7 linked regions of the Homo sapiens genome follow. The protein of the gene in region 4 purifies or fractionates together with the protein of the main gene of each other region. This does not show direct contact. Each region holds a gene or a part of one and is shown on either strand. Other genes may lie near its edges. The genes, in order: CORO1C, TIGAR, CORO2B, TWF1, BASP1, PIGR and TXNDC5.

Region 1 (3,500 bases), about 65 Mb from region 4:
AAAGTACTTCTTTAATTATAAAATATGTGTGCTTTTAAAAAGTTGAAAGATATAAAAAAGAACATAAAAATCATTCCATCAAAATCCTACAGCCCAGTGGGTGACAGAAGCTATTATCATTTTGATCTATTTCCTTCCGACACATGTACACAGAGATTGAGATGATAGAATGTATGTTGTATTTTTCCCCACTTAAGCTAATTATGAACATTTTCCCAAGCATGACTATTTTGATTTAGACAACTGATCATATTATTTATGAAATATGAACTTATTTTCCAAATCCAAAACACTAGATTCTTCATTCTTTTTAAAAAATATAGTCCCCTCCCTCTCCCCTTCCCCCTCCCCCTCCCCCTCTCCCTCTCCCCACGGTCTCCCTCTCCCTCTCTTTCCACGCTCTCCCTCTGATGCCGAGCCGAAGCTGGACGCTGCCATCTCGACTCACTGCAACCTCCCTGCCTGATTCTCCTGCCTCAGCCTGCTGAGTGCCTGCGATTGCAAGCGCGCACCGCCACGCCTGACTGGTTTTCGTATTTTTTTGGTGGAGACGGGGTTTCGCTGTGTTGGCGGGGCTGGTCTCCAGCTCCTGACCACGAGTAATCCGCCAGCCTCGGCCTCCCGAGGTGCCGGGATTGCAAACGGAGTCTCGTTCACTCAGTGCTCAATGTTGCCCGGGCTGGAGTGCAGTGGTGTGATCTCGGCTAGCTACAACCTCCACCTCCCAGCCGCCTGCCTTGGCCTCCCAAAGTGCCCAGATTGCAGCCTCTGCCCGGCCACCACCCTGTCTGGGAGGTGAGGGGCATCTCTGCCTGGCCGCCCATCGTCTGGGATGTGAGGAGCCCCTCTGCCCGGCTGCCCAGTCTGGGAAGTGAGGAGCGCCTCTTCCCGGCCGCCATCCCGTCTAGGAAGTGAGGAGCGTCTCTGCCCGGCCGCCCATCGTCTGAGATGTGGGGAGCGCCTCTGCTCCGCCGCCCCGTCTGGGATGTGAGGAGCGCCTCTGCCCGGCCGGGACCCCGTCTGGGAGGTTAGGAGCGTCTCTGCCTGGCCGACCCGTCTGAGAAGTGAGGAGCCCCTCTGCCCGGCAGCCGCCCCGTCTGAGAAGTGAGGAGCCCCTCCACCCGGCAGCCGCCCCGTCTGAGAAGTGAGGAGCCCCTCCGCCCGGCAGCCGCCCCGTCTGAGAAGTGAGGAGCCCCTCCGCCCGGCAGCCACCCCGTCTGGGAAGTGAGGAGCGTCTCTGCCCGGCAGCCACCCCGTCCGGGAGGGAGGTGGGGGCTCAGCCCCCGCCCGGCCAGCCGCCCCGTCCGGGAGGGAGGTGGGGGGTCAGCCCCCACCCGGCCAGCCGCCCCGTCCGGGAGGGAGGTGGGGGGGCAGCCCCCGCCCGGCCAGCAGCCCCATCCGGGAGGGAGGTGGGGGGTCAGCCTCCACCCGGCCACCACCCCATCCGGGAGGTGGGGGGCGCCTCTGCCCTGCCGCCCCTTCTGGGAATTGAGGAGCCCCTCTGCCCGGCCACCATCCTGTCTGGGAGGTGTACCCAACAGCTCATTGAGAACGGGCCATGATGACGATGGCGGTTTTGTGGAATAGAAAAGGGGAAAAGGTGGGGAAAGGATAGAGAAATCAGATTGTTGCTGTGTCTGTGTAGAAGGAAGTAGACATGGGAGACTTCATTTTGCTGTGTACTAAGAAAAATTCTTCTGCCTTGGGATGTTGTTGATCTATGACCTTACCCCCAACCCTGTGCTCTCTGAAACATGTGCTGTGTCCACTCAGGGTTAAATGGATTAAGGGCGGTGCAAGATGTGCTTTGTTGAACAGATGCTTGAAGGCAGCATGCTCGTTAAGAGTCATCACCGCTCCCTAATCTCAAGTACCCAGGGACACAAACACTGCGGAAGGCCGCAGGGTCCTCTCCCTAGGAAAACCAGAGACCTTTGTTCACTTGTTTAACTGCTGACCTTCCCTCCACTATTGTCCTATGACCCTGCCAAATCCCCCTCTGCAAGAAACACCCAAAAATGACCAATAAAATTAAAATTAAAAAAAATTAAAAAAATAAAAAATATATAGTCAACAGCCTCTTCAGGAGTATCAAAAGTATGTCTTTGAAATACATTTACCAGTAAGTCTCCAACGAGGATAAGAACTTCACATCCAATCTAAGACAATCAGGCGTTTAGAAAACTACACTAAGAATCCCATAATCTACTTACTCACTGGAAGACCTGCTCAGAACAGAGAGAAAGCTCAAGTGAAAGCAAGTGGAAAGCCTGGGGAGGGCGTACCGGATTCCAGAGAGCCAGCTGCCGCTCGCTCATGCGGCTGAACCCAGTGGTGAAGACATTGCCATCGGCCAGGAAGATGGCTCTCATGGGTCTTGCTCCTTCATGTGCTTTCTCCTTCTCCTGGAGAGCAAAAAGGCACATGCCACACATTAAACTGCAAGAAGACAAGGTGAGTGGAGAAACTCGGGCACAGATCCAACCTCACCAACTGCCATTCATGTTCACCTGGGTGTGGGAGGGAGGTCAGTGTTAACCATCCCCCTTCCCCAGATGAGGAAACAAAGAGATACTATGTGATCTGGTCAAGGTCCCTCTGTGAGGCTGCAAGAATGCCAGGATTTAACTCAGAAGACTCGCTCTCTCCACCATATCCTGCTGCCAACCCAAGTCTATGCACTGTGAAAATAAAACACATGAAAGGACTCTGACAAATGTTTGTTTCTCAAGAGGATAATAACATAAGGAGATTAGGCATGCCCTACCATTTCTACCAATATCATAGGGCAGAAAGAAGCCTTGTCTAGTTAACGCTTTCCTTGACCTCAGTAGTTTAATGAATGCACTAGGACAACCCTTAGAAGATGTCGGGTGGAGAAAACACTTAACACAGGGCTGGGCAAGTCCCCAGGGCTCAGTAAGCACCAGCTACTATCATTGCCCAACTCTTGAAAAGAGATGCAGCCAAAGAACAACCACATCTCAGGAAGGGCCTCAGAGTGTGGCAAATGAGGACTTCTCAGACTTACTATGTGTAGTTTCAACACCGACTGAAGACCCAAATGTCCATCTTTTGTCAAGGTATGTGATTTTGTTGAGGTCCAGTTTGGGTGGCAGAAACTAAGACACTGAGCTGATGAGAGAACTTGTTGCTTTTCGCCCTGCGCATTTATTTATTTATTTATTTATTTATTTTTGTATTTTTAGTAGAGACAGAGTTTCACCATGTTGGCCAGGCTGGTCTCAAACTCCTGACCTCAAATGATCCACCCACCTCGGCCTCCCAAAGTGCTGGGATTACAAGTGTGAGCCACCATGCCCGGCCACCTGTTGCATCTTTAACAGCTGTGTTTGGAAAAGGGTGAGGAATTGATTCATCAATATTCAATACTAAGCTGCAAAATCAGGAATGCAGCCAATTGGTTTAATTGATCAAGACTTATAAACTCTTAAGGACTCTAGTGAACTGATACAAACTATTTCTTTGTGAAAAAAGGC
Region 2 (4,101 bases), about 39 Mb from region 4:
CGGGCGCGGTGGCTCACGCCTGTAATCCCACCACTTTGGGAGGTCGAGGCGGGCGGATCACGAGGTCAGGAGATCGAGACCATCCTGGCTAACACGGTGAAACCCTGTCTCTACTAAAAATACAAAAAATTAGCCGGGCGTGGTGGCAGGCGCCTGTAGTCCCAGCTACTCGGGAGGCTGAGCCAGAATGGCGTGAACCCGGGAGGCGGAGCTTGCAGTGAGCCGAGATCACACCACTGCACTCCAGCCTGGGTGACAGAGCCAGACTCCATCTCAAAAAAATAAATAAATAAATAAAAAAGAGAAGGTTGCTTTAGGAGGAAGTTAAGTTTAAAAGTAAAAAGCAAAGAATTGAACATACTGACATATTGATTCTTTGAAAAGAAATTTAGAACTCATATCTAACATGAAGCAACTCCCTCAACGTTCTGAAGGCTATTAAAGAGAAATTATTCATCTGAGGCTTGTTAAAAACGGCAAGACTTTACTCAAGACTACTGCAATAGGTGAGAGAGACTGAATTCGACTCTAGAATACAACCGGGACCAGTGGAGATTTATAGCCAGGGGGCGGGATGGAAGGGATGAAAGAGAAGATGGGAAATTACCAGAACGTGGTAAGCTATCTGGGGGAGGGGGAGGAGGAACTTTACTAGATATCAAGGGCCTTAGAAGAGAGCATCAACAGTGAGGTCTCTCTTGATAAACAGGCTTAGCAGGATTCTTTGGTAAAACCAGGCTCAGCAGGCCGAGGATGCCGTCTAGTATAGAAAAGGCCTCAAAGGAGCCCGACTAAAGTTTGGTCACGGAGGGCGTCTGTCCCGGCGGAGTTGGGGTGGGTGGGTCTAAGTCTACAGACCTGGCCGACGCTACGTCCCTAAGGTTAGGGACTAACAGACCTCATAGAACACAGTCTGTTGGTCGCTGTACACCCGTGAGGGGTTCATCACAGTGGCCAGCTATAAGACGAACGGTTGCATTCCAGCCTCAATCGCAACAACCACAAATCAGTGCGCCGGCTTCCTTATCTGCCCCGAACGCAGGCTGCCGGCTATCGAGGGAAGGAATCCTACCGCGGACTCCGCGGGCGGGGCCTCCCGCACCTGCCGCGCGCCAATCACAGGCCGGCGCGCAGGGGCGCAAGCGCCGCAGCCCTGGGCGGGGCCCCCGTGGCTCCCTCGTCTCCCCCGCCCCGTCGGCCTCGCCCGGCCCTGAGTGGCCTTCGGGGATGACGTGCGAGGCCGCCTCGGCCTATGGCGGCGGAGCCGGCCGGCTGCTTGGCGGAAGTGGTGTGGGGGAGGTAGCCCGCAGTGCAGGGGCAGCGCGGCGCGGGGCCACCGACGGGACGCGGCTCCGGGAACATGGCTCGCTTCGCTCTGACTGTTGTCCGGCAGTGAGTATGGCTGTGGCAGGATGTCTTTCTCTCTCTCTTCCTTGAGTGTGTTGGAGCGGGTGAAGGGAAAACGGGTCCACCACCCTCTCCCCTCCCTGCTCGCTCCAGCCCGGGAGGGCTGGCTTGGAAGCGCTTTTTCCGGGGCGCTTGCCCTGGGGCCGTCCCGTGTCGCCCCTCCTCTCACCCCAGCAGCCCCGAGGGACGACGGCAGGTCTTAGATAGCTTCGTTCCGTGTTTCAGATAAAGTGAGGCCCGGAGGAGCAAGGGATCGGGGTTCGTAGGCACTTGGTGGCTGCACCAAAAACGGTGCCAGACATGTCCACAGACTTGTCTGGGTACCGATTTTGCTCCCCAGCAGATTGCAAAGAGTTTGCAGAATTGCTCGTCCATGGCTGATGTTTTTGATGCCGGCTGCCTTCCGCTATCCTCTCAGTTTCTGAGGTTCCCCCTCGTTTCCCCAGGCAGTCAGCCCCCCAGGCACATATATGAGACTTCTTTCTTTTCCCCAGAGGTTACAGTTCTGGGAGAGAAAAGAGGATCACAGCTCTGATCTCAGCAGACCGTATCATCCCAAATAAATGTTTTTATTATCATAACGTTACACGGAGCTGCATGCTGATAGGTCTTTATGTATTTGCCAAGTGTTAACGGGAGGTGAAAATCAGGGTAGTTAAGAGCACAGATTTTTATTTTTATTTTTTTTTTTTTGTGAGATGGAGCCTCGCTCTGTCACCCAGGCTGGAGTGCAGTGGCGCTATCTCTGCTCACTGCAACCTCCCGCCTCCGGGGTTCAAGCGATTCTCCTGCTTCAGCCTCCCGAGTAGCTGGGATTACAGGCATGCGCCACCACGCCCGGCTAATTTTTGTATTTTTAGTAGAGACAGGGTTTCGCCATGTTGGTCAGGCAGGTCTGGAACTCCTGACCTTAAGTGATCCGACTACCTCGGCCTCGCAAAGTGTTGGGATTACAGGCATGAGCCACCGCGCCCTGCTAAGAGCACAGATTTTTCAGGCAAGGTAGACCTCGGTTGGAGTCTGTTCTCCAGCTAAGAGCCAGGTAGCCTGGACTTAAGTTTCCTGATATGCAAATGATAGTGCGTATCTCACTACTTTAATGCGAGAATTAAATGGGGGACAGGTAAAGTGTATGATGCAACAGGGAAAGAAATATATCTGAGAAATAACTTCTATAAAGAAAGCTCCAATAAAAGTGCAGTTGATTCCCAAATACGAACGTATAGTTCAGCACACCAGCATTTTGAGTAGGTAATGTGTGCCAGTAGACTGGATCATACAGATAAATAACATACCATTTCTGCATTCATGGAGCTCACAAAGGACATTAATATGATTTAACTTTGTCAATTGACTTTAACAGCTATCTTTTCTGGCCTGTCCTTCCTTTATAAGAAAGATAATCTTAAGAATCCTCTAAAATTGTCTGTTTAGGATTAGCAGGATTTTAATGGCTACCTTAGAAATCTAGTTCCTCACTATCTCTTCTCCCACCCCTCTCGGTTGTATAGAATGCCTTGGGAGAATTCTTAACTTACTAAAGGTCACACAGCTAATCGGTAGCAGAACAGGAACTAGAGGCCTGATCACCCTTTCTTCCAATGTTAGTGCACTTTCTAGACGCCTGACCCAGCCAGCCCAGTGTCATATTTATAATTGAAACTCAGACCATCAAGGTGGTTCACCCCTGTAATCCTAGCACGTTGGGGGGCGGAAGTGGGTGGATCCCTTGAGCACAGGAGTTCAAGACCAGCCTGGGCAACATGGTGAAACCTCCTCTCTACAAAAAAAAAAAAAAAAAGCTGGCTGTGGTGGTGCATGCCTGTGAACCTAGCTAATAGGGAGGCTGAGGCAGGAAGATCACTTGGATCATGTGAGCCTGGGAAGTGAGGGCTGTAGTGAGCTGTGATTGGGCCACTGCACCCCAGCCTAAGCGACACAGTGGGACCCTGTCTCAAAAAGAAAAAAAAGAAAACTCAGAAGTTGTAGAATATTTGGGGTAAGGCAACCCCTAAAAAGTAAGATGATTCCTATTTAGATTCCTAATAGACAATAGTCATATAAATATGGATTTTATTCCCTTTCTGCTGCTTAAAAAGGGTTTGATTCCGGAGGCCCTCATAGGAATCATTTAAAAAATAAGTCTTAATAAATGATTATTTGCCAGGCACTGTTGTAATTAAAATCTGACAGTTTAGTGAGTTAAGGACTGATATCCTCATTTTTCACATGAGGCAGCTGAGACAGAGACGCCTTGTAACTTGCTTAAAGTCACATGGCAAGTTGAGGAAGTAGGAGTTTAACCAAAGCAACTTTACCACTCACCGTCTTTTGTTTCCTACTTAATTTGTTAAAACCCGGTATTTGTAGATTACTTGAACATCACCAGCCATTTTTGAGGCTACTTTTTAGTCTCTTAATATAATTGTGTGGAGTTATGACAATAGTTTATTTTGTTCTGTTTTATGTGTAGGAAGATGGAGTGAGAGGGCTGGTTCAATGCTTTCCGGTCTGGATCCTCCTGCTTCTTGCCTTCAGAGTTCTCAAAACCAAAACCTGGTGATTCTTTCAGGAAAAGAAGTGATTTTTAAATTTGACTCATTATCACCATAGTTAAATGTAATGACTTTTTGAAGAGTTAGATAATTTTATTGGACTTACCTCTTCAGATAATGCAAAAAAATCTTTAAAGCA
Region 3 (3,981 bases), on a different chromosome or scaffold from region 4:
CTACCTACCGCTCCCAGTGTGTCAGCAGCGATCCTACCTCTCACACCCTCTTTAGGGTTCTCCTTCATATCTGTCTTGTAAACAGACCACCCCTCAGAGAACAAAGAGTCTCCCAATCTCCATCAGAGGTGACTTTCTTGCCAGAACTGAAGCTGCACCAAGGCTCAGCAGAAGAGGCCCTAGAGATCATTGGAACCAAGTCTTACATTTGACAAATAGAAAAACAGAGGCCCAAGGATGGAAGTGACTGGTCCAAGGTCACACAGCCTGTTGGTGGCTAATTTAGGACTAGGGGCCAGGCCTTCAGACTTCCAGAGCATGGTGGCTTTCCCTATGGTACTGGAAGAGCTACTACCAGCGGGCTTGTAGACAGCAAAGCAGTCCCCAGTGCCTTTCCTGCATCCCTCTTGCTCTCTGTTCCCCACAAGAACACGCTGGTCTGTGAAGGGCCAGCAAGGGGAGAGAAGATAGGGTTAAGGTGGGGATTTTATTTAATCCCCTGAGCTTGCTTAAGCCAAAGCCACATTGGTTAGAGCAGGAGGTGAGCGACATGGAGGGTTTGTTGGGGGCTGGGTATGGGGGTGGAGGAGTGTTGAATAGTTACTGGATACCAAGAAGCTAGGCCTGCCAGTGGGCTTAACAGGTAAGCACCCACTTTCATGGACTCCCTGTCCCATCCCTGCTTCAAGGTTCAGGTCTCCAAGCAGTGCTCCTCTACCATGGAAGTCCCCCAGTAGCCAGGATGCCCAACGATGCAGAGCAGTGCAAAGATCACTGGCCATAGATTGAGACAGACTTGAGGGCAAACCCCAGCTCTGCCACATACATGCTGTGTGACCTCAGGCAAGTCATTTCACCTCTCTGAGCCTCAGTTCCTTCCACTGTTAAAGAGAACTGAACACACCTTCCTTGCAGGCCTCCAGGGAAGGAAGGCTGCATGAGCTCGCGCACAAAAAGAGACACAGGGGAGGCGCTGAGTTAATCCTCAGCGCTATTATTAAAACCTCACACCCTTTCTCTCTCTAGCCGGGCCCATCCATTACTCCTCTGTCCCAGCCTGCTTGCATCTTTGACATTAATAACCTTAATATCCCTCCCAGCTGAATAGCATTTGCATCATTTCAAAACCCTAAGCATCTTACCCCAGGTGGGCCACAACAGCCCTGCCAGAAGTAGCCAGAGCTGAGGAAGCCCCTGCACCCTCAAGTTCATCTTCTCACAATGCTCCCAAGTCCCAGAACCAGGGCCAATGGCAAAGTTTGGAGTTGGGCCCAAGAATCCGCACAAACATTCAGTCTTGGGGCAGACCTCAGGAGGGCAAGGGTAGGCCCTGGCTTACCAGAAGGAGCCAAAACCACCCCACCTCCATCACTTGCACCCCAACCCTCCATCTGGCCCCACTGCTCTGACCCTCCATCTGACCCCACTCTGGGCTGCCGGTCCCACTTTGGCCTCCAGCTCCCCAATTCTGGGACCCAGCTGGGCAGCTGGAAAGGGTGGAGTCTGGCCCTTGAATGGACGGCCAAGCCCGAGGCCACCGCCAGACTGTGAGCTCAGTACCCAGACAGATCTCTCTGAAGAGTGTGGGTTCACACCCTTGATGTTATTGGTTCTTTAACAGCCTGTCACAACCCAGGACCCATATTATCACCCTCACAGCACACAAGAAGAAACTGAGGCCCAAAGTGGACCCCTCCCCGACCAAGGTCATCCAGGGGATCTGGGATAGAGCTGGGATTGAACTCAGGTCTCCCTGGTCCCTTGACCCTGGCACTTTCCACTGCCCCATCATCTTTCCTCTTAACTCTTTCCTCCCTACAACTAGGAAGCCCCTGAAGTCTCTCCAATAAACGTGGGCCCCTATGACAAGGCCCAACAATCATCCTCCAATATGGGGGCTGCCAAGATGCCCACCTTTGCTTCCCCTGTCACATTCCCTCCCCACATCTTCAAGCCAACCACCTGGACCTGCCCTGTCTCTGGTAGCGGCTCCCGGGACTGGGCAGCGCCTTCTGCACAGAGTGGCTTTGGAGTGGAGCCAGCGCTCCCGGCATGGGCGGCAGAGGCTGGCAGGTGGGGTGGGGTTTCCCCTCCGCTGGCCTCCTCGGGGCGGCAGGCCCATCCCCACACCCACTGCTCAGCACCAGCCCCTGCCAGCGACGCTTCCCGCCGCGCACTCCCTGGAGGGACACCGCTAGCCGCCCAGCCCAGCTCTCCAGGGGTTAAAAATGCAGCATCCCAAACAAGGGTTAAAAATGCAGTCCCGGGGTTGGGCCGGGCGCGGAGGGATGTTGGCCAAACCGCCGGGGCTGCCAGAGCGGCATCCTCCCCCTGGCCTCCGCAGTCCTTGGGGGCCGGAGTGACTCGAGCGGATCCGGCAGCAAGAGAGGCGCGCGCCGCACCTTCCCGGCACCGGCGCCCCCTCCCCACACCCACACCCCCGCGCCCCCCGCAGCCTAGCCCGGGGGATGCAGGCGCCGGCGGGTCCCGGGCGCGGCGGGCGAGCGGCGCTTACCTTTGTGACAGTCATGCAGAAACTCCGCGGCGGAGCGGGGGCGCGGGCGCGGCGTGCGGGGGCGGCGGCGGCGGCCCGGGGCGGCGGCGGAAGGGGGTCCGGCAGCTCCCGGCTCGCTCCCCGCGCCCCGCCGGCGGCTCGGCCGAGCCTGGGGGCTGCGCTCCGGGCGGGCAGCGCGCAGGGACCGCTCGTCGGCGCTCGCCCGCCGCTCGTCGCTGATGTCAGCCCCGAATGTGCATTTATAATAGATGAGCCTCCTTCGCCGCAGGAAGGCGAGGCAGGAAGAAAGGGAGAGAGGGAGAGGGCCCGGGCTGGGGGGCGGGGGGAGGAAGAGGGGCCGGGAACTCGCTACAAAGGAGGAGGCGGAGGGAGGAGGAGGAGGAAGCGCAGCCCGCCAGCGGCCGTGCCCCGAGCCTCCCGCTCGATCGCCGGCCGCCGGGCACCGCTGCTCCCGGAGTCCGGACGGGCGCCCGGGTCCGCGGCCTTAACCCCTTCGGGCCTGCGGACGCCACGCGGCTGGGCGAGGCTGGCTCCCGGCACCTGCCGGCTGGGAGAACGGGCGGCGCCCCGGGCTCTCGGGTGTCCCGCTGGCCCGGGGACGCTGGTGAAGTCACAGGCTGGACGGCCGAGGCGCTGCGCGGGCAAAGAAGGCGGTCGGGTTCGCCCCCTGGAGGCTCGCAAAGTCGGCCCGTGGGCCGTGAGTGTGGCGCGGCGGGCTGGGAGGGGCGTGGCAGCCGCAAGCCCGGGAGCCCTGCCCGCACCCCCACCTCGCGCTGGCCCGGGGCACAGGGTGGCCAGACGGATTTGTGTAAGCACTCTTTCGAATCTAATTCCCGCCGCGATGACTTGCCCGAAGGCCGCCTTAGTGAGTTTTGCAGAGGAGGAAACTGACGATCAGAGTGGGACGGACGTGGGAAGTGACTTAGACCACAGCACAGGACCTGCCTGCCCGAGCCGTTCCTCCCGCTCTTTCCACTCGGCCGCTAGCTCCCTAAGGAACCTCTTGTTATAGAAGCTGCCCTGCCCTAGGACTGTCTACACTACCACTGAGTGCCGCTCTACTGGTGGAGTGATAACACAGGTGCGTCCTGTGTGTTGATCCAATCCTGACTCGGGGCACAGTGTGTCCTGGAGCTGCTGCGGAGATTTGAGGGACAGTCACCTGAAGGTGACCTCGCAAGTCTTGAGAAAGGAGTCTCCCTCCCAAGCACCTGAGCAGAACCGGTTTCCGCAGATACAGAACCGCGGAGAGGGTGGAGGGGAGGAGTTAGCAGAGGTGGAAGCAGAGGGGTTCTCCAAGCAGGACAGCCTGGCAAGCCCGGAAGTGCTGGCTTCCTGCTCCACGGTAATTACCGGTGCAATTCACCTGGACAGCGAAGGCAACGTCATATATGAGCACCTGCTCTGTGGAAAGTGCTGGGGGAACAGAGAGGAGATGGGATGCCTGCCTTCCGGGAGACCAGTGT
Region 4 (3,500 bases):
GAACTTAAAAAGCATGAAGGGTTCAGAACCTAAAAACACTGGTAGTTTTTAAGGACCTGTATTTTTATGAGTTTAAGGGCTCAAGAATATATATCTTTCCCCATGCCTTATCTGTACTTAAGAAAATTTAAGAAAATTGGTAGCTTAGTTCCCAAAATTCAAATGTTTATGCTTATTCCTTCCTTCCCCCAAACTGGAAAGACTCCCAACCATCCCATAATTCAGTCATAATGGAGACTGTAATTCCTTATTAATATGCAGTAGAAATAATCACAAGTATGCAGCTCTGGCAGCGCTGTCCAATAGGACTTTTTGCACTGATGGAAATGTCCTATAAATTCTGCACTAACCAATACGGTAGCCAGTAGCCACATTTAGCTAATGAGAATTTGACATAAGGCTAGTGGAATTAAGAAACAGAACTTTAAATCTTATTTAAAGTTAAATAGCCACATGTGGCTTACTAGGAAGTACAGATATATATAGAGATGGGGATCATGACAGGTAGTTCCCAGGCACTTAGAGGAGATCCTAAGGATTTAGGATGATAACAAGAAAAATAAATATTTTCATTTATAAATCACAGTACATCATAAACTACATAGAAATGAAAAGAAAAATTTAGCAAAAACTGAAGATTTTAAAATAGGTGGGCTACCTTTCTAATTACATCCATTTGTAGTTGTCTTTCTACAATTTCTAGCAGACGGCTCTTGCAGCTAGAATACAGCATCCGCTCTCTTATACTGCATGTGTATCCAGGCATTGAATAAATAAAAACTGTAAGTTCAAATAATAACAAATATAATTAGCATATCAATACATAAACTTCATAAAACTACATATATAAACTTCATAAAAACAAGTACAGAAACTTCATAAAACTACAGCTAAGCCCTCTGGGCAAGAAATAAGTAAGAATATAGGGCTGATACACCAATAAACAAACTGAAAGTAATGTGTTAAAAACAATGTATCATATACCTATGGACTCTAAATAGTCTCCTTCATGGGAATGTTTATACAGAAAGAAATGGTAACGAGCTGAATCCTTGGGAATCCTCTTTGGCAAATCTTTCAGTTCTGTATTTGTTGTGTTGGCCAAAATTATAATTTCATTTTTTATATCTATTTCCTGCCAATAAGAAACAAAATATGTTCATTAAAACCAGATATAAGGAAATTAAGTTAAAACATATAATAAAAAGACCAAGAGATAAAGGAGGAACTTAGTTCTGGATGGTTTGACTTTTTCACAATGAACATTTACAAAATGAATTTTAGAAATCAGAAAGCTATTTAAAATGTAAAATCCATTAATAATAAACCCTATATGAGTCATAAACTACCAAAAAGAGCAGCCACTTAATAATCATTATACATCTCTTACCAACTGCACATAGTTGAGCTGTCTATTATTCAATTTTTCCAAAGCCTGAAAGGCTTCTCGAGAAATGGGAAATGCTACTCCTTGTAGTGTTTGATGCTTAGTGTCCACACCCACGTCAGTCTGTACCTAAGTATGACAGATTTAATTTACAAGTTTAGCAGTTAGCAGTATCCTATGGCAAACATAAGAAAACCCAACCTCTATAAAATAGTATCATTCAACCCTAGCCCAACCTATAATTAAAATTATTTTTCACATTTGTTTACGGTCCTGCTAGCATTTTGTCAACATGCAGAGTGCATGACACATCTTTACGACAATGTTGGAAGTGAACATTTGAATGAGTGTACAGTTAGTGGGGTTTGGGTGGGTTTGTTTTTATGTTTGGTTTGGCACAATTTCTTTAGAGTGTCATCAGATTACACCACTGATTGTAAAATTTTACTTGATAGAATTTATAAACAACAATCTACATACAATATGTATAGAACTTTACTTTGTTCTGTTGGACAGAAAATGCAACACAAACATCATGCACTGAATTGAAAGGAGTACAAACAGTGTACAAAGACAACACAGCTCAACAAGTTATACTACTGCAGAAGTTCCAGACTTAAGAGATTTCTTTACTAAGAACATGGTGTGCATGTACTGGAAGAGGAGAAAGATAAGAAAGCATTCAATGCACATGTTTAAGATTTTTATACTTGATAAATGATAGCTAGTAGAGAGTCTCATTCGCAGTGTTGCAACAGAAAGTCCAATAGAAATTTTACTTTTAAAAAAATGAATGGAGATTCTACAGCATAAATGATATTGGTTAATGAAAACATCATAGAACATATGCGAATGCATACCCCAATATGATCCTCTGGGCTCTGATTGCAAGAAATAAAACAAACTATCAAACTCGTAAAAAAAAAAAAAAATCACATAAAAAGCCCTACTCAAATAATATGAATTAAAATAATATGATAGATCCTTGCTACCAGTTTAATATTAAATGATATTCAACCATTCTCCAGACTGATTCCTACTGTCTGTGACTCAGGCTAATGAACAGTGGTTTCAGCTAATGAATAGTGGTTTCAGCCACTTGTTCTTTTCTGTAAAGTCCCAGTAGAAATACAGTAGTTATTCCAGTATGTTAGAATGGCTGTAGAAAACACATTAAAAATAATGATAAACTACAAAATAATATGGCTGAAATTTATTGACTCTAATATGCTCAACAGGTACTCAAATAATAATCTTCCATATATATCTCTATTCAAGTAGAGTTCATAGAAGTTAATTTGTAGACTCTCTAGAAAGCCAACAAAACAATAATCTGCTTCAGGCAACCTTATTAGATACATTCTTTGCACTAAATGGGTAACACACACTTTTTCTCTATATAATATTCAAAGTACAAAGTTCACAACAGTTGTACTTCAAAAGGAAGATTTACTATTCTGACATGAAGATTATAGGAAAAGCTATTTATAAAATGCATATAAAGTTTAATATTCATTTTAACTTTTTTTTTCTGAAAAGGCATTAAGCACATAGCCTTATCTCTAAACTAAACGGAATAAACCTAAGCTACCTAACTTCTTTAATCTCTAGTTATCCTCCCACATCTATTAATTAAAAATACAGTATTTTCAAACACTTAAAATCTTGCAAAGACTTTGTAGTTGTAACTTACCTCATTGATTTTAATCTGTCGTAGTTCTTCCTCAGCTGCAGTCAGTGGGGCAGGGGAAGATTGTGACAGCAAGTATTTTTTATATCCATGTAATGATACATCTTCCTGTAAGTACAGAATAGACTATAATCAGTAATTCTCTAGAAGTAAAATGACAGTGAAGTTACTTTAGGAAAAACAAAATCATTAACAGAAAAGATTTTAAATGAAAATAAATAGCATTATGAATTTTAATATCTTTTTACTTTTCTTTAATCCTCAATTTTAAGTTTCAAAACTTTTTAAGGGGAGTACCCACTGTTCATTTTATATGAAGCTTTATAATTACTAAATATTTTGTATGAGTTTCATACTGGCAAAGTGAAATACTGAACCTGGTCATCCTGTAAGTCTATAGGACAACTGTAATTAACCTTCTGG
Region 5 (4,288 bases), on a different chromosome or scaffold from region 4:
AATTGGGGACATGCTGGTATATATTTGCTATTGAATTTGTTCTATATTCCAACATACCCCTCGCCAAAAACACAACCTAAAGGAAAAGAAAAAAGAAAGAACGTAGCTCTCTAAATCATAATAACCTACTCAATACTAAGGAGTACAGAGGGTACAATCCATGCCACCTAGAAGACAGCTAGACAGCCACCGTAGCCAGTAGATGGGCCCTGATATATTAAACGTGGTCAATATCAAGTTCTCATCAAAAAGGACAAAAGAGATGATTTCCATTGCTGCCACGCGTTATTCCACCAGGATGTACTGACAGTACTTAAGCATAAAACCCTATTAAACATAACCTACCACTGCAAAAAATATCATATTTGGCTCCTATTTAATATACACAATAAGTCCCTTTTTGTGTGGTAAAAACAAACTACCTGAAAATAAATCTAAATGGCCATAACCTGGAAAATAGATCATCTGAAAGAAAATCAGCCATCAAAGGTATATCATGGCTTCTGTTAGGTAATGGGGAAAAAGGAATCATTGCGAACCTAATCAACCAGCTTCACCCCAACGACTGCCTTCTTTCTGCCCCCATCAGATTTCCATCTGGACGCCATTCGCCTTTTGGAATCCTTAATGAAACAATGAGTTCGGAGTCCAGAGAAAACAGAAAGGGTTAGGATCCCGACAAGGTAATCGTTTTCTTCTCTCCGGTTTTTGTAGGCCATCTTGTTCGAATAAACGCCAAGATGTCTTAATTTTCCCCAGGTGGTGTCACTGGAGGCAACGCCCACTGACAGTTTTGAGGCCACCTTCCCTTAATCAAATGACCAAAAAAGATCTGTCAAACGGTTAATTGATGCAAATTAAGAAAGCCACCCTCACTGCAGTAAGATATGTTACAGGAAAAAGAACAATGAACAGTACTAGAAAGGAAAATAACAGTGTGCGGGTACAAAATATTTAATCCACAATTTGCCTTCATCCTCATCAAGGCAAATCTTAATTTTGGTCAATTGAAATCAGCAAGAAAGCAAAAGATGAGAGACAGCCTGGAAAAGAAGAAACACACACACAGGCGGGAAAAACTGTCATTGGTGTCCAAGGGTTTCCCGCAACATTTAGGGCAAACGCCTTTGTTCCTCGGCTCGGGAGGGGAGTGGGTGGCTGGATGATGGAGATGGGATGGGGCTGCCGGGCCCTCCACACCCTGCTCTCCGGCGCATGCGCGAGGCCAAGACAAAGGAATAGGTAATTACAGTCCCGATTCATTCATTTTGCCTGCAGTATACTGGGGGTCTGTTGGCCCGGGCTGTAATCCCGGGAGGTGGGGGTGGGGGGTCGGTCCACAACCCTATAGCAGAAGGCCATTTCGACGCTAGTGTTGGGTTTTAGCCCGCCCCACAGTGCGAGTGGCCGCGGGGGAGACAGAGGTGTTGTCAACCTGTACAAGGTCCTAAAAAATGCACCCATGTGTGCTGTGCTAATTTCAGCAGAGTGAGAATTACATGGGCAAGGGCTGTCCACCGAGTTCGTTTCAAGGCGGAAATGTCTCTGGGGACGCAGATAAGGAGCCTGGCCAAGCGTTCGATGAATATTCATGAAAAGAATGCGGTTTGCAGCCGCGCATTGTGCGTGCGATCGGATCCAGGATTCCGCAATTTTTATTTTTCTGGAAATGGAGGGGGGACGGGGGCGGGGGGAGCAGGAACCGGGCGCCGGGTTTCAGCTTTAGCGCTTTGGGCAAAAGCTGCTCAACCCCAACCCTACGCTCCCAGCGGGGCTGAGCCCAGTTAGGGCCGCGCGCTGTCAGGTTCAAGCCCACACCCCCCGGGCCCGGGCCGGGGCCGGGACCCAGGGCGGAGGCGCCTGGCGCATTCTTGGAACCAAAGGCTCGAAAAAACAAACTGCTCCGAGGCAGCCCACGGGTTCGTAGGAAGGCAATTCCGCCACTGACGAGGCTGGGGCTCCGATCTGCTCGGGAGGTGCTTCTGAGTGCACGTCGCCGTGTGAACCTCGTATTCCTTGGCCCCAGAACCAAGATCCAGGAGTCCCATGGGTCGAGAAAACCCGTTTGCCAAAGCAAAAAGCCACCCACTTCCTTCTGATCGGGCCAGATTCCCCATCTTCTTTCTCCCCGGACTCCCGCCCCACCCCACCCCCACCCTCCATCTTTGGCTGCTGCGCCCCTCGCCCCGAGCGCTTTCTCCCAGGCTGGTAAGGGCTCCGATGACGGAAGCGCTCCCTTCAGCCCACAGAACCGTCTCCCCGGGACTCAACGCACTGAGGGGGTTTCGCATTCGGCAATTCCTCCCGTCACCCGCAGCTCCTCTCCCCGACAGCCCCCTCCCCCCAGCTCCGTTTACCAACCTCGCCGCCCCCCTCACCCCTCCACCATGCGAGCGGCTGAAGCCTCCCACTTCTGGGCCCCCCATCACCCGGGATCCCCGAAGTGCGACGGAGCCCTCACAGAGGGACCCCAGGCCCTTGCCGTCCAATCCGGGCCCACATCCCTGCTGCCCGCTGCATGAAGGGAGAGCCCGGGGGCTGCGGGGCGGGGCGCGGCGCGGTGGGGGACGGAGGCCCCCGGGTCCGCGGCGGCGCGGGGCCACCGGGCGCGCCTCCTTACCGGCTCTGGGTGCCTATGCAGCCCCTGAGTTAGCGCGGTGCCGCCGAGAGGCCGGGGTCGCTGGCGTCGTCTGGCTGGTGCCTGGCCGCTGGCGGAGGCTCTCTCCCGGCTCGACGGCGGAGCCCGGAGCGAGGAGCCAGTTGGAGCGCTGCCGCCGCCGTCGTCGCCGCTGCCGCTACTGCCGCCGCCGCCGCCGCTGCAGCCTCTGCATTTCTCGCGCTCGCTCCCCCTCCCCTTCCTGCCCAGTGCCCTCCCCCCGCGCGTCCGCCCGCCCAGCCTCCCTCCTCCCGCGCTCCCCGCCCGCCTCTCTCCCCTCCCTCCAGCCCGGCGCCCCGCCCGTCTCCCCTCCACCCCCTCCAGCTCCATCTCCCCACCCCCTGCACTCCCTCTGCTCCCCTCCCCTCCTCCGGCGCAGACCCTCCCCTCTCCCCTCCAGCCTGGACACGCCCGCCTCCCCTTGACTCCCCCCAGCTCTGGGCCCCCACCTCCCCTCCCCTCCAGCACAGTCACCCCCATTTCTCTCCTATCCGCCATCCTGGTTCCTCCCTTCCCCCCACCTCCCAACTCTGTGCCCCGCCAACGTTTCCTAAATGCCCTCTATTCAGATCCCCCCTCCGCCTCCCCTCTCCTCTCCTCCATTCCTGCGTCCCCCTTCCCCCGCCGCGCCGCCTGGGCTGTCCGTGGACTTCTCCCACTCTCTCACTCTCTCACTCACTCTCTCTCTCTCTCTCTCTCTCTCACTCTCTCTCTCTCTCTCCCCCTCATTTATTTGGAACCGTTGGATAAGAAGTGCTCGGGCTCTCGCTCAGACTTAGGGAGCTGCCTCGAGGTGATGAATGACACCCCCTGGCACCAGCTACCCTTCTCAGACCCCAGTCCAGCCCGCTCCCGACGTCGACTACGATTCCGCTACCTCGGCTGGCAGCGAGGTTGGGGTGAGCCCCAGCTGCAGGCGCGTCTGGGCTGCGCCGCTGCAAACGAGTTGCGCACCTTGGGCGGCTCCGCACCTGCACCCGCACCCGCGGGGCTCAGCCCCGAAGGCTGCAGCTTCGGGGGAGGCGCGGTCGCCGAGGTCCAGCTGGTGGGGCGAGAGACGTCGCCCCTCGGAGGATGCTCTCGGAACTTGGGAGAGGAAGGAGGGAAGAGAAGAGGGGAAAGGGGCCGTCGATGTTTTTGATGTCTGTGCTTTAATGGAGGCCACCAATATTGAGAAGACGGGGTTGGCCGAGGCAGCCCGCACGCTGCTGCTTGCGAGCGCTCGAGTCAAAGCTAGGGCCAACCGCGGCTTGTCCGGGTGCCCTAAGGGGGCGGACACTTGGTTTAGCACCGGGACACAGAATAGCCACCGGGGTAGGAAGATGCGTTCACTTTGCTTACCTGTTGGCAAGAGGGACATACAAAAATAACGTAACGTGACATCGTTGACAACGGTAGCTCTTTGATTACACAAAAGCCAATTTTACCTTCCCGCAAAAGCCAGTTGACGCCTTTGGAACTTTTATTTGCGGCATTTTGGCGCCCTCTGGCTGTGTTTGGATCGCTTTCATGCTCGCCTGCGTCCCAGCCAAGAAAAAATCGATGGAGCTGCAGGTTGTCCTCAGGATGGTTCTGCCCTCAGGACCTGGGCGTGAATTCAGGGACAGGGTGGCCCTCCAGAACCGGAGTGAC
Region 6 (3,500 bases), on a different chromosome or scaffold from region 4:
GCCTTGAATCCTTCCTTACCTGCCGGAATCCACAGATGCTCTGCTCCCATCGGCTTGATCTCTTGTATCTGCCACCGCCTTTTCCTCTGCAAAAAGCCTGGGATCCTGAATGGCTTTGTTCTCAATCTCCCGAAAACCAGAGTCTAGCACCTTCTCATCAGGAGCAGCGTCTGCCTTCGCTAGGCTGACATCGCGGGACCCTGCAGCAGGGAAGAGTGGGCCTGGGTTGTGATTTTTCTCTATGCTCTTACTCCTCGAGGTGAAGGAGTCTGGGGGAGACTTCATGAGGAATCACAGGGTCAGGGTTCGATCTCAAGGCTGTTGGGGTAGGACCCAGGATGACATTAGAAACAGCTGTGATGGCCTTCTTCAGCTGTCACAGATGATCTCTGCCCCATTACTACCAAAAGTATAGTGGGGACCTTCAAGGCTTCGTGTCATAGACCAGCTGTGCATAAAGGCTGACCCATCACTTATGCCCGGGAGATTTTCAAGGCTCTGAGACGCTGCCCCAGGCTTCCTGACTGCCCAGCTGGGTATGATAGTGCTGCCCCCTGGAGGTAGCCTGGCGATGGGCCCCTCAGTGAGTCCCATCCGCAGGGTCCAGACCCAATAGGATTTCTTGAGGGACTACAAATACCCTTATTAGGGCTAAAACATTTCATGTGAAATTTTAAAAGGGGACTTGAAATGCAAATTTACTAGATGTTTCCTAATTTTCCTGATCAGACCTTGTAAATGAAGGTATCTGGCCCTCTTTCGAGGGCGAGCTTTGGCAGGGGGAAGGGGGATGAACATATTGCATATGACAGTGATGTATGCATATTATTCTTCTATACAGAGAAGAATATTTCCAGATATAGAAGAGACTTCAATCTGGGTTGAAGTGGCAACTATGGGACTTGTCTTTTTTTTTTTTTTGAAATGGAATCTAGCTCTGTTGCCTAGGCTAGAGTGTGGTGGCACGATCTCAGTTCACTGCAACCCCTGCCTCTTGGGTTCAAGCAATTCTCATGCCTCAGCCACCCAAATAGCTGGGATTACACCACCATGCCCAGCTAATTTTTGTATTTTTAGTAGAGACGAGTTTTCTCCATGTCAGCCAGGCTGGTGTTGAACTCCTGGCCTCAAGTGATCTGCCTACCTCGGCCTCCCAAAGTGCTGGGATTACAGGTGTGAGCCACCACATTCAGCTGGGAGTTGTCTTAATGCCGAGGTTAAATAGCAAACCCACTATTTTTACTTAGTTGGTATGTTTATTTGAGATGTCCCTTTTGAAGGGCTCAACGAGGCTATATAGGACCTAAATGTCCCCTCCCTTCCCACTCTCCACTTTCAGCCTCTTACAGCCAAACATAGGGGCCAGCACTGATTGAGAAGCTCTCAGGCAGGGGCCTTCAGGAAGTCCTGCCTCTGGGTCTGAGGGGTGCAGGCCCTGTCCTTGGAGACTCACCCGCTGCCTTCCTCTCTTCAACTGCCACATAGACGGCTGCAGTCTCTCCATAGAAGTGGCCCTGCTTCACTCCACACCAGTACCAGCCCTCATCAGCCCTGGTCACCAGGTTCAGGGTCAGGGAGACAAGCCGGCTGTTCTCGTCACAGTTCACGAAGGCCTTGCTGGGGCCTTCGTCTTGGCTGGGCAGGGCCTGGCAGCCCGTGTTATTCCACTTGCACCAGTATTTCTCGTACGAGGAGAATTTGCATGGAAAGTGACAGGGGACCTTGAGAGTCTCTCCCAGCACAGCCGTGACATTCCCTGGTACCTTGAGGTTTGGTTCTCCTGGAGGAGGGAGGGAGGTAGAAATAAACACAGAAGTTGGTACTTGGAGATGCTGCAGGGAAGTGACTCTGGTGGGAATCTTTGTCCACATGTCATATACATATATATATATATTTTTGTTTTTGTTTTTGAGACAAGGTCTCTCTCTGTCACCCAGGCTGGAGGGTAGTGGTGCGATCATAGCTCACTGCAGCCTCCATCTCCTGGGCTCAAGCAATCTTCCTGTCTTGGCCTCCCAAGGTGCTGAGATTACAGGCATGCACCACCATGTTCAGTCTACATATCCTCTTTGGATAGCATTAGAAATAAGTATGTTATTCTGACTACAGAAGAAATGTAATTGTGTGCCTAGGTAATAATTATTATTGATGAGCACCATGATCAATCCAGAGTCTACCATAGACCATAGATCTTCACACATGGACTTCAGTTTGCTTTCCTCACTCTTCCTTCTCTTCTAGACTCAATACAAAGAGGTATCTGCAATCCTTGACTTCAGCTGATGCCTGCACACTGCGAAAGAAGCCCATGTTCTTGGTAGTAGGAGGTACCATGTATGGTAATTCAGAGTGTAAGGTGCGTGTTATAGGCATGAAAATGTGACCTCTGGATAGGTGGGCTCCCTCCTGAGGTCTGGCCCATCAGGGTGGAGGCGGGTGAAAAAGGAGGAAGAGTGGTTGGGGATGCTGCTGCTGGCTGGAGAGGTTTTAGAGCTTTCTCCCTCCCTGTCAACTCCTACCTTCGATAATCTTGATCTCCACGGTGGTCCTCCAGAGAGTATCGCCGTTGGTCAGACACCAGTAGAAGCCGGCGTCCCGGCTGGTGAGCTGGTTGAGGATGACAGTGAAGGTGCCGTTGCCTGGCTCCTCCAGCAGGGAGAGGCGGCCCTCGTACTGGGCCTTAACCCACCCCTCGCTGTCCACCAGCAGGGGGCAGCGGCCATTCTGGGCCCCTTCCCAGAGACACCAGTACTTGATGCTTTTGCTTTCCTTACGGTTGTAGGGGCAGAGCACGGCCACAGAGCCTCCTGCCACCCCCTTCACCACAGTGGGGCTGCGGGGAATCGTGGACTCTGGAAGCACAGACAGAGATGGGATGGGAGGATGGCCACGCAGGAAGAGCCTTGCGTGGCCTGAGAAGCCTTCTTCCCGGGGTCTCAGCCAGGATGGGGAGTGAAGTTTACACGCATCACCTTACCCTCTTCAGAAAATGAAAAGGAGCTTTCCTAATGTCACAGAGCCTGCAGCTGGAGCCATCAGGGCCAGACTCCAAGGGCTTGGAGTCTCCCCATCAGCCTGCACATGTTGTTCTTTTCCCCCATCTTATTCTGAGCAGAGAATGGAAGGAGTTGAAGGAGAGGATATCAGCTCTTCTTTGGCTTCTTACAAAGTCTCCCTCTGTGTAGGTTTTTGTCTATTTAGTACACTAACAAGTGTATTCCACAAAAGTGGCCCAATGGATTATGCCCAAATCAAGAAAATATATTTAGGATGGTATGATGTAAACTATAAAGTATGTAGCAAAGGTGAGCTTAATTGTTGGGGCCCCAAGGGGCATCTCAAAGACGATAGCCATTCTCCAGGCAGCTAAAGCTGAGATCCAGAGAGAAGCAGGTGACCAAAGATGCAGGGGATTCTGGTGAAAACCCAGAGCTGGATGTGGACATGGCATGCAGAGAATATAAGCCCCTTTAAAAAAAAAAAGTCACAAGCACAGATAC
Region 7 (3,500 bases), on a different chromosome or scaffold from region 4:
AGTGAATAACAACTTAGTCCTGCCTATTTTAGTGCTGGTAGAAAATAAAAAAGAAAGCAATGACTTAGAACAAGATGTTTCATGAAAATGTTGGGCAAGCAGCAGCTTTATGAGATTTAAATGAAAGAAAAAGCTTGAAGAGCTGTGCTTGTTGGTAAATTAAGTTTATAAAATTAAGGACGGATTATAATCTTGACATCTTTGCAGTCTTACCTTTATTATATACCAACTACTCCTGTTTAAAATTCACTTCTTGCTCCCTGTTGATTTTAAAACCCTCTAAGCTTCAGCATGAGAGTAAATTCTAAGCTGGCATGTGAACTGGTCTGGGTCCCAGTCACCGACAGCCAGGCTAACCCCCCTCCCACCACCACCAAATGTCAAGCCAGGGCCCTGACTCAAGCTACCAGGTGCTGACTTTACTTGCTCGAGTTAAAATGTTGCTTCCTAAAAACCGGCATGTTTAACTGAGCTATTAATACAATAAATCTTGCCTCTAAAGTCTTTCCTTTACTCCTTTTAGCTCAGGTATGTTTTAGCATAGCTTTCAGGAACATTCTCTTCAAAAACTGCACCTTGCTGGCAGAGTTGCTACAGAATGTGGATTTTGAAAAGAATATTTGTAACGTACAAAGTGTCCAGTAGCCCCATTAGCAAGAAGGTTCATGAAGAAACTGACTGGGAAGTTGATCTGCTTTTATTCTCAGGTTGATTGTACACAGCACTATGAACTCTGCTCCGGAAACCAGGTTCGTGGCTATCCCACTCTTCTCTGGTTCCGAGATGGGAAAAAGGTACGTCTGCACTTCTTAGTACTGAGAATTCTTCATCTCTTAACCCCATCAGGCTGAGCTACTGAGTGGTTTAATGGGCACAGTGAATTGCCAATCTTGATTGTTAGGGCACTGGTTTGGAGAAATGTGTATAATGAAACAAACGTCTTTCTCTTAATTGATAAGATTTGGGTTGTGGAGATGAACCTTGAAACATTTCAGTGGCCCAGGTTATCACTAGAATAACCCACATCTTACAGTCACAGGGTAACTGTGCTCTGGTTGTAAACACAAACCTTCAGGCCTTTGAACAGAGCTAAGGCTTGCACTTGGTCCGGTTCTGCCTGCCTCCCTCCCTCCTTCCCTGGCCGATGGTCAGCAGCTCAGAGTTCCCCATCAGCACAACGGCTTGCTGGCAGGCCTCTGCCCCAGACTTCTGTGATGTGTAACCCCGTGGAGGGAAGAGGGGCCTGTACAGTTCTCTCACCAAAGCCGAGGCATTCAGTTATCCTCTCTACATTCCCGTCTAAATATGAACATGCAGACTTTGCACCACCGCTAAGACATCTGGGAGCTCTGACCCGGGCAAGCAGGGGTTGCAGGAAGGCTTAAGTGATTCAGAACACCTCAGTGGACTCACTCAGCCGCGTGCCCGTGTCTTGGCCAGGTGGATCAGTACAAGGGAAAGCGGGATTTGGAGTCACTGAGGGAGTACGTGGAGTCGCAGCTGCAGCGCACAGAGACTGGAGCGACGGAGACCGTCACGCCCTCAGAGGCCCCGGTGCTGGCAGCTGAGCCCGAGGCTGACAAGGTGGGTGCCTGCTGGAGTCGGGATCCCCATAAGTGGCCCGTGGCCCCCGGCCCCCCACCTCCCCACCCTCAGAGGCCTCCTCAAATGCTTTGGACAAAATGACAGTTTGGGGACACAGTCATCTGATGGTTGGCTCCAGTTGCGTTTTCAACACGTATTTTTCATCGACTTTCACATGCTTTCAGGGGCGAATGCAAACAAAAGCTTTCCTTTTGAAAACATGAAATGGATGTGAGACAAATCCCAAGACAATATTTGGTGTCAAAAATCTCTAGAGAATCCTTCCTTTCCGCTTCATTCATTTTAAAGAATGACTCTGCTGGGCATGTTTCTGCTATGAAATCTCGACTGCTGGCCCCGGGGCCCTGATTCTATTCCTGACCTTGCTCCGGGCATTTTCCTTTACCCGTTGTAAAGGCCCCTAGAAGACCTGTAGCCAAGAGGGCATCCGCAGCGATCAGGCCAGTGACTGTAGCTGTAACCTGCCTAGGCAGTCCTGATGCACTGAGGGGCTTCCTTCCTTCACTCAGGTAGCAGGAGGTTTCAGATTCATTTGTTCTGCTTTATGAAGCCCTTGTTATGTCACAGGCACTGTTCTAGGCCACCAGGGAATAAAAATAAGACCGGTTTCCTGCCTCTGAAGCATACAGGTCTCTGAGGCAAATGGTGAGAAGACACACAAGCCAATGGCAGGGGGCTGGGGCAGAAATGTGTGCAGGGCTTGGCTGCTAGAGAGAAGTGGGGGCAAATGGGCAAGAAGTGTCCCTAAGGAGCTGATTGACGGGATCTGTGCTGGACAGATAGGCTGGGCAGGGCTGCCACTGAGGGGCTGCACCAGGAGAGGCACAACCCGAGAATCAGCCGGCATTTCTGCAGGGCCAGAGCTGGGGCTGGGGGAACACAGTGGGAGACAGGTCAGGGTGTGGTGTAGGATCCCTGAGAGTGAGAGAGGAGCTGGAGTTGAGAGTCTGTGGGCAGCTGGCCAAGGATTAGGAACTGTATCCCATATTGACAGGGAGCCCATGGAGGCTCTGTGCAGATTGGAGTTGTAGGAAAATGACCGGCATGCACGTGTGCTGGAGGTGGGAAGCTGCTCTATTAGGCCTTTAAAGATGATGCGTTCCCTCATGCTGCAGCCGTGACTGTGCGATGGCGAGGAGGAGAAAGCCAGCATAAGGAGTCCAGCCGCTGTGCAGCGCGGAGAGGGAGGGAGGGTCCGAGGCGAGTCTGATTCCCGCATATCTGGTGGAGGATGGTACCCAGCACAGGGGCGGGGCCAGAGCTCGAGGAAAGGGATGAGCTTGGTTTTCAAGGTGTTGATCTTCAAGGCTTTCGGCTGTGTAGGTGGCAGTGTCCAGTGGCAGTTCCAACCATGAGCCTGGGGCTGCGGCAGGAGGTCTGCACTGGACGAGAGTGCCCGTGTCATCCTCTTCAGGTAGAAGTCATGCCTGAAGGCCAGGAGTTTGGATTTGGAAAAACCAGTGGGGCCACCAACCCCTCCTCCCTGGTGGGGCCACACCAGGCCTCCTCACCCCTACAACCCTGTCCCTAGTTGGGCTCTTGTAGGTCGGGGATGGCCTGAGTGTTGTTTAAAAGTTGACGTTTTGGTTGAAGAAGTAAACAGCTGATTTTGTAGTTGTCAGGACCACTTATGTTAGAGGAGTGTATGTGTCATGGTGGTTACAAAGGTCATCCCAAATTGAGTATAATTATATACCACGGATGTTTTCATCGCAGCACCATTTCTATTTATAATGCAGTTTTCCACCATGAAGTGGGTCTTTTCAGTGCGTGTGGCGTCATGTTTCTGGACATAAAGATGGTAGTGTTCCACAGTGGCCCCCTTGGCCTCCGTCACTGACATGTTACTCGATGCCAGACTCAAATGGAGCAGCCCTGGTACACTTAGCCACGTG

What was found.
Region 1: the proteins of TWF1 (region 4) and CORO1C purify together in Homo sapiens (affinity purification with mass spectrometry; one large-scale study listed by BioGRID and IntAct). This does not show direct contact.
Region 2: the proteins of TWF1 (region 4) and TIGAR purify together in Homo sapiens (affinity purification with mass spectrometry; 2 studies listed by BioGRID and IntAct, with this or other methods). This does not show direct contact.
Region 3: the proteins of TWF1 (region 4) and CORO2B purify together in Homo sapiens (co-immunoprecipitation; one large-scale study listed by IntAct). This does not show direct contact.
Region 5: the proteins of TWF1 (region 4) and BASP1 purify together in Homo sapiens (affinity purification with mass spectrometry; one large-scale study listed by BioGRID and IntAct). This does not show direct contact.
Region 6: the proteins of TWF1 (region 4) and PIGR purify together in Homo sapiens (affinity purification with mass spectrometry; one large-scale study listed by BioGRID and IntAct). This does not show direct contact.
Region 7: the proteins of TWF1 (region 4) and TXNDC5 fractionate together in Homo sapiens (co-fractionation; one large-scale study listed by BioGRID). This does not show direct contact.

The regions. Positions count from the first base shown.
Region 1 is NC_000012.12:108,655,019-108,658,518, forward strand, and holds part of CORO1C (coronin-1C), read right to left. Parts: intron 2,406-3,500; coding exon 2,286-2,405; intron 1-2,285. UniProt on the Homo sapiens protein: Plays a role in directed cell migration by regulating the activation and subcellular location of RAC1. Increases the presence of activated RAC1 at the leading edge of migrating cells.
Region 2 is NC_000012.12:4,319,912-4,324,012, forward strand, and holds the start of TIGAR (fructose-2,6-bisphosphatase TIGAR), read left to right. Parts: upstream 1-1,301; 5' UTR 1,302-1,360; coding exon 1,361-1,392; intron 1,393-4,101.
Region 3 is NC_000015.10:68,577,812-68,581,792, reverse strand, and holds the start of CORO2B (coronin-2B), read right to left. Parts: upstream 2,801-3,981; 5' UTR 2,531-2,800; coding exon 2,516-2,530; intron 1-2,515. UniProt on the Homo sapiens protein: May play a role in the reorganization of neuronal actin structure.
Region 4 is NC_000012.12:43,796,318-43,799,817, forward strand, and holds part of TWF1 (twinfilin-1), read right to left. Parts: intron 3,186-3,500; coding exon 3,081-3,185; intron 2,269-3,080; coding exon of another isoform or gene 2,248-2,268; intron 1,517-2,247; coding exon 1,391-1,516; intron 1,136-1,390; coding exon 985-1,135; intron 781-984; coding exon 659-780; intron 1-658. UniProt on the Homo sapiens protein: Actin-binding protein involved in motile and morphological processes. Inhibits actin polymerization, likely by sequestering G-actin. By capping the barbed ends of filaments, it also regulates motility.
Region 5 is NC_000005.10:17,216,143-17,220,430, reverse strand, and holds the start of BASP1 (brain acid soluble protein 1), read right to left. Parts: upstream 2,801-4,288; 5' UTR 2,621-2,800; intron 1-2,620.
Region 6 is NC_000001.11:206,932,967-206,936,466, forward strand, and holds part of PIGR (polymeric immunoglobulin receptor precursor), read right to left. Parts: intron 2,853-3,500; coding exon 2,520-2,852; intron 1,781-2,519; coding exon 1,454-1,780; intron 201-1,453; coding exon 20-200; intron 1-19.
Region 7 is NC_000006.12:7,886,789-7,890,288, reverse strand, and holds part of TXNDC5 (thioredoxin domain-containing protein 5 isoform 1 precursor), read left to right. Parts: intron 1-707; coding exon 708-794; intron 795-1,440; coding exon 1,441-1,584; intron 1,585-3,500. UniProt on the Homo sapiens protein: Protein disulfide isomerase of the endoplasmic reticulum lumen involved in the formation of disulfide bonds in proteins. Can reduce insulin disulfide bonds.